Homo sapiens: one gene and its partner. Each later gene encodes a partner of the first gene's protein in a complex. Each region holds a gene or a part of one and is shown on either strand. Other genes may lie near its edges. The genes, in order: ADM2 and CALCRL. A codon is read from its position in the direction of its gene.

What was found.
Region 2: the proteins of ADM2 (region 1) and CALCRL are in contact, whole or in part, in a cryo-EM structure (PDB 6UVA), measured with the Homo sapiens proteins. Residues at the interface, in NP_001240774.1 of Homo sapiens: Leu106 (codon at 476), Arg107 (codon at 473), Val108 (codon at 470), Gly109 (codon at 467), Cys110 (codon at 464), Val111 (codon at 461), Leu112 (codon at 458), Gly113 (codon at 455), Thr114 (codon at 452), Cys115 (codon at 449), Gln116 (codon at 446), Val117 (codon at 443), Gln118 (codon at 440), Asn119 (codon at 437), Leu120 (codon at 434), Ser121 (codon at 431), His122 (codon at 428), Arg123 (codon at 425), Leu124 (codon at 422), Trp125 (codon at 419), Gln126 (codon at 416), Leu127 (codon at 413), Met128 (codon at 410), Gly129 (codon at 407), Pro130 (codon at 404), Ala131 (codon at 401), Gly132 (codon at 398), Arg133 (codon at 395), Gln134 (codon at 392), Asp135 (codon at 389); in NP_001258680.1 of Homo sapiens: Val36, Thr37, Lys40, Asp70, Gly71, Trp72, Asp90, Tyr91, Phe92, Gln93, Asp94, Phe95, Asp96, Pro97, Ser98, His114, Ala116, Ser117, Thr120, Trp121, Thr122, Tyr124, Thr125, Asn128, Thr131, Lys134, Val135, Ala138, Leu139, Leu141.

The regions. Positions count from the first base shown.
Region 1 is NC_000022.11:50,479,330-50,483,247, reverse strand, and holds the start of ADM2 (protein ADM2 preproprotein), read right to left. Parts: upstream 1,706-3,918; 5' UTR 1,485-1,705; exon of another isoform or gene 1,412-1,484; 5' UTR 1,401-1,411; coding exon 1,291-1,400; intron 682-1,290; coding exon 345-681; 3' UTR 1-344. UniProt on the Homo sapiens protein: Intermedin/ADM2 is a peptide hormone that plays a role as physiological regulator of gastrointestinal and cardiovascular bioactivities mediated by the CALCRL-RAMPs receptor complexes.
Region 2 is NC_000002.12:187,441,636-187,445,553, reverse strand, and holds part of CALCRL (calcitonin gene-related peptide type 1 receptor precursor), read left to right. Parts: intron 1-3,918. UniProt on the Homo sapiens protein: G protein-coupled receptor which specificity is determined by its interaction with receptor-activity-modifying proteins (RAMPs). Together with RAMP1, form the receptor complex for calcitonin-gene-related peptides CALCA/CGRP1 and CALCB/CGRP2.

The DNA of each region.
Region 1 (3,918 bases):
GCTCGTCCAGACATGGCCCCGTGTGTTCAGGGCCCAGCTTCTGCTCCACATCTCTGGGCAGACACCTCCTCTCTGAAGCGCTTAGCATCTGGTGCTGCCGCCAGCTGTGTCTGGCAGCTGTCCCCCAGGGGGTCACAATTTCAGGGTGTTTAGGCTCCTTGACGTACCAGCACTGCGTGTAGACCAGCCTAGGTTTACGTGTGCAAAGCCGTGCAGGTATTGTTGCTGCAGGACCTGCTGTCTGCAGCTCCGAGGGACTGGGCTTCAGATGGGGCTCAGCTGCAGCTCTGGACGGGGGCACAGCACCCTGGCTGGGATGGGCAGGGGTGTGGCCCGGCCCCACCTCAGCCATAGCTGTGGGGGCTGCTGGGGTCCACAGGAGCTGAGTCCTGCCGGCCGGCCGGTCCCATGAGTTGCCACAGGCGGTGGCTGAGATTCTGCACCTGGCAGGTGCCCAGCACACAGCCCACTCGCAGGAGCTGGGCTTGGGTCCTGCGGGGGCCCGAGTGTCTTCGGGGGCCCGAGTGTTGGCGGCCACCATCCCGGAGAGGCTGACCCATAACAGGGGCCAGGCCGGCACCCCTCTGTGCCTGGAGGGCCCGGTGAAGCTTCCAGACCACAGGTCGGGGTGCGGGGTGCCTGGGCTGCAGGCTGCTGGAAGGGCTCCGGGCTGGGGGCTCCCTGCAGAGGCAGATGGAGAATGTCAACCAGATGGCTCAGCCTTTTGGAGAACTCACACCTGCCCACTTTTGCCTCTACACAGGCCTGGGTCACTGCCAGGGGAAGCCCACAGCCCCCATCCACACACAGCCTGGAGCACGGCCAGGGGAAGCCCGCGTCCCCTCTGGGCTTGGGCCTGGGACCATCTCAGTGGCCCGGGTCACGTGTCCCGGGAACCGGCACCTCCTTGGCCAAAGGGCACCCCGGCGGCCCAGCCTCTGCGGGTCACCACTCTCAGGGCTCAGGGTGACTCGGCTTCTGCCCTCCCTTTAGGGTGGTCACAGGCCGGCCAGGGATACCGCCAGCCTCCCCTCCCCCAGCAGACACCCCCAGAAGAGGGGCTGCTGTGCCCATGTGTGTGGGGAGGAGCAACTGCCCTGTGTAGGGAGGCAGAGAAAGAGGGGCCTCTGGCCCTGCTCAGGCGCTCCTGAGCCTGGGGTAGGGGCCTTTGTTTGGGAGGGGAGTCCTAGCAGCAGGTGGAGGCGTGGAGGGAGGGCGGCCCCGCGGCCCCCGGCACTCTGCTTCCCTGCGGGGGCCAGAGGGGTTGGCTGGCCCAAGACCTGGACTCACCTGGGTTTGACGGGTCGCGGGTCCCCGCCCAGGCTGCGGGACAGCGAGCCAGGGAGCTGCAGGCAGAGGAGGCTGATGCAACCCAGGGCGGCCGTCGGGATCCGGGCCATGGCGGGCGGGGCTGCAGGGGAGGGGGCGGTGAGCCGGGCACGTCGGGGGCAGCCTGAGCCGCGAGCCACCCCCTCCGCCGGCACCTCGGGGAGTCCTCCGCGGTCGGGGCGCCGGGCGTGGGCGTGGCAAGCTGGGCACGGGCGTCCGTCGGGGCGCAGGCCTCGGGCGCGAAGCGGGCAGCGGGTCTGGGGTCGGCCGCGGGTCCGGGGCGCAAGGCGGAGCGGGCTGGGCGGGTTGGGGGTCCTGCCTGGAGCGGAGTCGCGGCCCGGGATGGCACCTCCAGGGCTGAATACGTAGCCTTTCCAGCAAGGGGCGGAGCCGGATGCACGGACGGGGCGGGGCGCCCCTCCTCCGGGCCCAGCCACCCTCGGGGCGGGGAGGGGGCTGCGGCGAAGGGAGCGGTGGAGGGGCCTGTCCCCGCTGGGAGCGCTCGGCGACCGGCCCGGGACCGCGGGACCGCCAGCCTCACTCCAAGCGCCTTCTGGTGGGGACGCAGCCCCGAGCCTGCGGGGGCCGGACTTCCCCACGCTGCAGCGGGGTTCTGGGGGGCGAACCGTCGTCCGAGCTGATCCCACGGCTGGGGCGGACTCGGACCCGACGGGGCCCACCCCGTCAACCACCTCCCGAGTCCGGGCGGTCCCACCCTCCAGGGTCTGACCCGGTGGACCCCGGCCCCCCAGCCTGACCAGCAAGTCCGCGGGATTCCGCAGCGGGCTGGCCATTCCGCTCTCCTCTGACGCGGTGCCGCCGACCCCGGGGCTGCGCTCCTAAAAGGCTGTACCGACCCTCGGCCGCTCCAACCCCGGACCAAAGTATTGCACGGTTTTTGTAACAGATTTAAAGTGTCCGGGCGCGGTGGCTCACGCCTGTAATCCCAGCAGTTTGGGAAGCCGAGGCGGGCGGATCACGAGGTCAGGAGATCGAGACCATCCTGGCTAACAAGGTGAAAGGCCGTCTCTACTAAAAATACAAAAAATTAGCCGGGCGTGGTGGCGGGTGCCTGTAATCTCAGCTACTCGGGAGGCTGAGGCAGGAAAGGCTGAGGCTTGAATCCAGGCGGCGGAGGTTGCAGTGAGCCGACATCGCGGCATTGCACTCCAGCTTGGGCGACAGAGCGAGACTCCGTCTCAAAAAAAGAAAAAAAAAAAAGAAAAAGAAAAATTTAAAACGAGTGAAACGTGAGACTCCCCTCACCATTGCCACCCACTTGGGACCCCTACCCTGGTCTGGGGGGGAGCCCTCTCCTGACTTGCCCTGGGCACACCTAGGTGTGGCTATGTGAGGCACACACATCCATGTGTGCAGATTTGCAGTAGGACTGAGACCCCGTTCTTTCCTGAGAGCTTGTTTGGAGGTCCTGGCAGAGGAGCGCAGCTACTCGAAGCCCGGTCCTCCATCCTCTTCGATGGAGCGTGCAGCTTCGGAGGGACGCACAGGGAACAGTGGGGAAGGAGGGGGACACCTGCCTCTGAGCCAGCCACATCAGCCGAATCAACACTGGTGACCAGTGGGGTGACAGGCGTCACAGCCCGACCGTCCTCACATCAGAGACCCCACTCTTTCCTATGGTTGGATCTACTCCAACATATAGGTGTTGTATGATTCATCTCATCTGCTATTAATATGAAATTAGGTGACTGCCAGTCTTTTCATGAGTTGCTGCCTTGAGCTCACAGATGTGTCTATAGGACACCTTCCTGGAAGTAGAAATTCTGGTTGAAGGTGAGCATGTGTTTATGTTGATAGATGGTTCACTGTTCTCCACAGAGCTTTCGCCTACCCACTGTCCACGAGTCCTGGACTTGGTGTCACGGGTTCCAAGCTGCTGAGACTGGCCTCTCTGTTGGGTGAGCTGAGGATCTCTGCGTCCGTTCGTGCTTCCCCTTCTGTCTCCCCAACCCCTGCGCTCACCCCGTAACCCTCCTGCTGACACACCATGGGAGCACAGTCAACATTTGCTGGGTGAATAAGTCGAGGAGTGCCGAGCACACACCCCACAGGCCGATCTGGGAGGGCAGGGATGCCTTGCAGGTATTATTTACTTATTTTGACCAGTTGAGGGGGCAGGGAGTGTCACATTTATATGTTTTTTTTTTTTTTGAGATGGAGTCCCACTGTGTCACCCAGGCTGGAGTGCCGTGGCGAAATCTCAGCTCACTGCAAACTCCGCCTCCCAGGTTTAAGCGATTCTCCTGCCTCAGCCTCCTGAGTAGCTGGAATTATAAGTGCCCACCACCACGCCCAGATAATTTTTGTATTTGAGAGAGGGTTTCACCATGTTGGCCAGGATGGTCTCGAATTCCTGACCTTAGGTGATCCACCCACCTTGGCCTCCCAAAGTGCTGTGATTACAGGTGTGAGCCACTGCACCCAGTGTTTTGTTGTTGTTGTTGTTTGTTTGCTTTTTTGAGATGGAGTCTCACTCTGTCGCCCAGGCTGGAGTGCAGTGGCACAATCTTGGCTCACTGCGACCTCCGCCTCCCAGGTTCAAGTAATTCTCCTGCCTCAGCCTCCCAA
Region 2 (3,918 bases), on another chromosome or scaffold:
CTACCAATTTTATCTACATGGCAAAAGTTTGATAGTAACTTAATTTTAAAAGATTGTTCTAGATCTTTATAGAAAAAATATAATAATCTTTAAAGGATCAAAAACTTATTCACTAAACAAAATTTATTTCATACTCTATATATGACTTTTAATACAGCTTTATCAAATAATTCTGGTTTTGGAGATATAATGATTACAGTATCGACTTTTCACAATACAAATATGTTCAAGAAATAGTATTTAAAATCTTTTGCTTTATTGCGTATCTTATGCTTGGCATTCAGAGAAGCTATTAAACCATAAACACAAGCGCTATCATTGCAAGGGTGTTAATGAAAGACGCTCTTATGAGAGTCAAGTGTGTAACGTATCTTAGTTTTGACTTAATCAGAATATTGGAGAATACGCTTAAGATAGACAAATGGTACACAGCTATTTAAAACATTTATCTGTATCTGGTTTTCAAATCCATGGGTAAACTATAAACATTCATAATTTCTCAGGTATGTTCTATTTTTCTGACAAAGTACATGTACCATACTGGATTACAAATTATTTCAAGACATCTTCTCGTTTAATATACAAAAATATTATGATGCAAATAGGTGGAAAATAAAAACTTACCAGAAATACAAGTCTACATTCTAACCAGATGGATCTATCCTTTTCCCATATATTCACATGGACCATGTAAATTAGATTAGGTCAATTAATCTCTGCATTTTTCCTTATTTGAATAATCTTAAAATCAAATTAATTTAATTATAATAAGCTATATTACAAAAAAGAGAAGAAATGTATTCAATTTTTAAGGACATAATAAGGTCTTACTTCTTCTTACAAAAATATAAAATAGTATCACTGCCTGTGAACTGAGTTAGGGTCTATGTTTCCTAGGTTACTAGAATTATTATCAGGTAATAAGTTGCAAATATTTTCCTAAAACACATTTCTTCCATTTTTTTCTTCAATTAGTTTGTTTACTTAAGAGACAGTATTATTCAAAACTAATACACCAAAATATTATTGTTTGCAAAAATGGCCCAAATAGTGTATTTACTTTTGAAATGTTAAGCAAGTTTTATTTTTTAATGTTTTCATGGTTTAAATTAAATGTGTTATACACCTTTTCCATTACTAAAAATTAAAAAGACAAAAATCCCAACCCAGTTCAATCTAGCATAAGCCAAAATGAATACATAAATAACCCCTATGGTATTGGGGCTATAGTTTTATATTTTATTAACACTGCTGGATGGAGCCCAATTTTCAGACAAATCTTATTTCCCTTAACATGGAACATATCTTTTTGAATTAAAAAGTGTTAATATGACATAAACTTTTGTATAAAACTGTAGTTATTTCTCTATTCAGGCTTAGGCTAACCTAAGCTCATTTATGTTTCTCATGAAATTATGGTGAATTTTGAGCATATCATTTGGTATGTTAAATTGCAATGATTTACTTACATAGCAACTAGATGGTTTATAAGTGCCCATCTCCTTACAGTGCAGTCACATGGAGGATCAATAGCATATTCGTGAGCACACAGGTTTGGTTTTATTAACCAAAATGAAGATAAATTTTTCTTGTATCCAACTACCAAATTCATAAATTTTACAAATGAGTGTTAATTTGAACCCGCATTCACTAATTAAACTGAGACCAATGATTACACAGATATTTTGCATATGCACCTCAATTTTGCCTTTCTTCCAAGGATAATTTGAAGGAAAAATAGAAACTTTGGTAAGTATCAGAGAGCAATAAATAACATTATAATAGACAAAGAGAGTTAAAACCATGGGAAAAGAATGTCATCAATACAAAACTGTGATTTTTATTTTGTACTTAGTAATGGAAACAATATTAGAGTAACATGTTTATTGTTTTATTAGTCAATGTGCATATGTCTTTAAAATTTTACTTTTAATGATGTATTTGTTTCTGTCTTTTCTACAAATATACCAATGTACTTTATAAATTAAGAAAAAATATGCATTTATTTTAGAAATTTAGGTATATGGTATTTATAGAAGTACACTGTGATGCGCTTTGGATTTAGATCATCCACATAAGAACCCAAAATTTACCACTTATTAGTTCCCCTTTCTCATCCATAAAGTGGAAGTGATAATCATATTGCTTTATAAGGTTTTGTAAGTAATCCATGAATTAACACGTGGAAATTTTTTAGCACTTGGCATTTAGTACATATTCAATAAATTTTCATGTTCACCTTAAGTCTGTTGTGAATGAGACTGAGGACATAATTTGTTTCTATGCAAAATTTTATTCCAAACAATCAACACCCATACGGATAAACAGAATGCAATCTATCTGTAAGACAGGAAGAGTGAACAAGTGTGATTTATAATTACAGTTGTTACAGTGACCATCCTTTTGCCATTATACAATACATGCCAGAACCTAATAAAATTGATATTGATAATTACTATCTCCATAGAACTTGAGCACTTTAAAATACCTGCATATTAACAATTTAAAAAGGTATATTAAACAAAAATTATTGCGTTTCTTTACATGTGAAACTCAGTGAAACCCAAAGTTGCACAATCCTCGTTGACAAAACTCTGGTTTTATCCTACATATATTATGAATCTACATCCTAAATATTTCATTATACTATTGTGTATTATCTATTATTAGACCTCTCATTACTGAAGTTGTGCAAAGTTGAATAGTGATATGATTCACCAAATCCAAACTGAATCTCTTCTAACACAAGATAATAAAAGTAAATTTATTTACACAAATTTGTTTGCTACTTGTGTGACTATACTACAGTAGAGATAAATGTAGACATCTGTCGGAAAATTTTAGTTTTGATTACTATAGCAGCTCCACAATCTCAAAATGAGAACATTAAGAAGGATCCAATAAATTCAGCTTTTAGGATTCCAAGTTGTTTTTGACCATTTTTTTTAAAGTTCTTATTATAGGAACTTATTACTGCCACCTAATGGAAGACACTTATATTTTCTTATTTATTATATTTCAAAAATACAAAGAAAGAGTGCCTGTGCAATAGGATGGCAAAAAAAATTTAGGTTTTGGCTTAACATAATTCATTTTAAGAATTTATCATTGAATATTTTATAAATTAAGACCCACATTGAGAATGTAATGAAACCAAAACCTTTTTTTCCATAAATTAAAAAAAAATACATTCAAAGGGATTCTCATTTTGCTTACAGTTGCATGAGTTTCATAGGATCTCCTTTTTGTTAGCTATGTTAAGAGTTCTTCAACTCTCAGTTTAAACACCCATGTTGCAGGTAATTCACGTGACAGTTACTCTTATAAAATAAGGTAAAATATATATATACGTATATGTATACATATATACACACATATATGTGTGCGTATATATGTGTGTGTATGTATGTGTGTGTGTATGTATGTATATGTATATGTGTGTGTATGTATATATATATATATATATATATATATATATATATAATGTTTTTAAGCCACCTCAGATACTTTTATAGATCAAGGAGTAAGGAACAGAATTCAAAAGACAGACATGGACATCAGAAACAAATGGCCAAGAGTTTTCCCAGCAGACAGACAGCATGAGTTGCAGGGCGTTAGGAAAAACTATACAGTAAGTACAATCTGCAGTTGGTAATTTTCCATCTGTCTTTTGGTATCCCTCTCCTTCCACTAAGTTTTCTCACTTAGCCTGTCTAACGTTCACTTTTTTCCAAACCATAGGCCCAATAGCTGCATTCTGGCCTCAAGTGGTCAAGAGTAGCATATTTTCCTGTATGCTAAAATTGCTCTTTTTCTAAACAAATTAAAATCTGGTAATATTGCAGTATATTTCATTTGGGGGAAGGAAGCAGACTGATTTTTCATCCCAGAGTTTATTTCTGTCAAAGAATATTTATA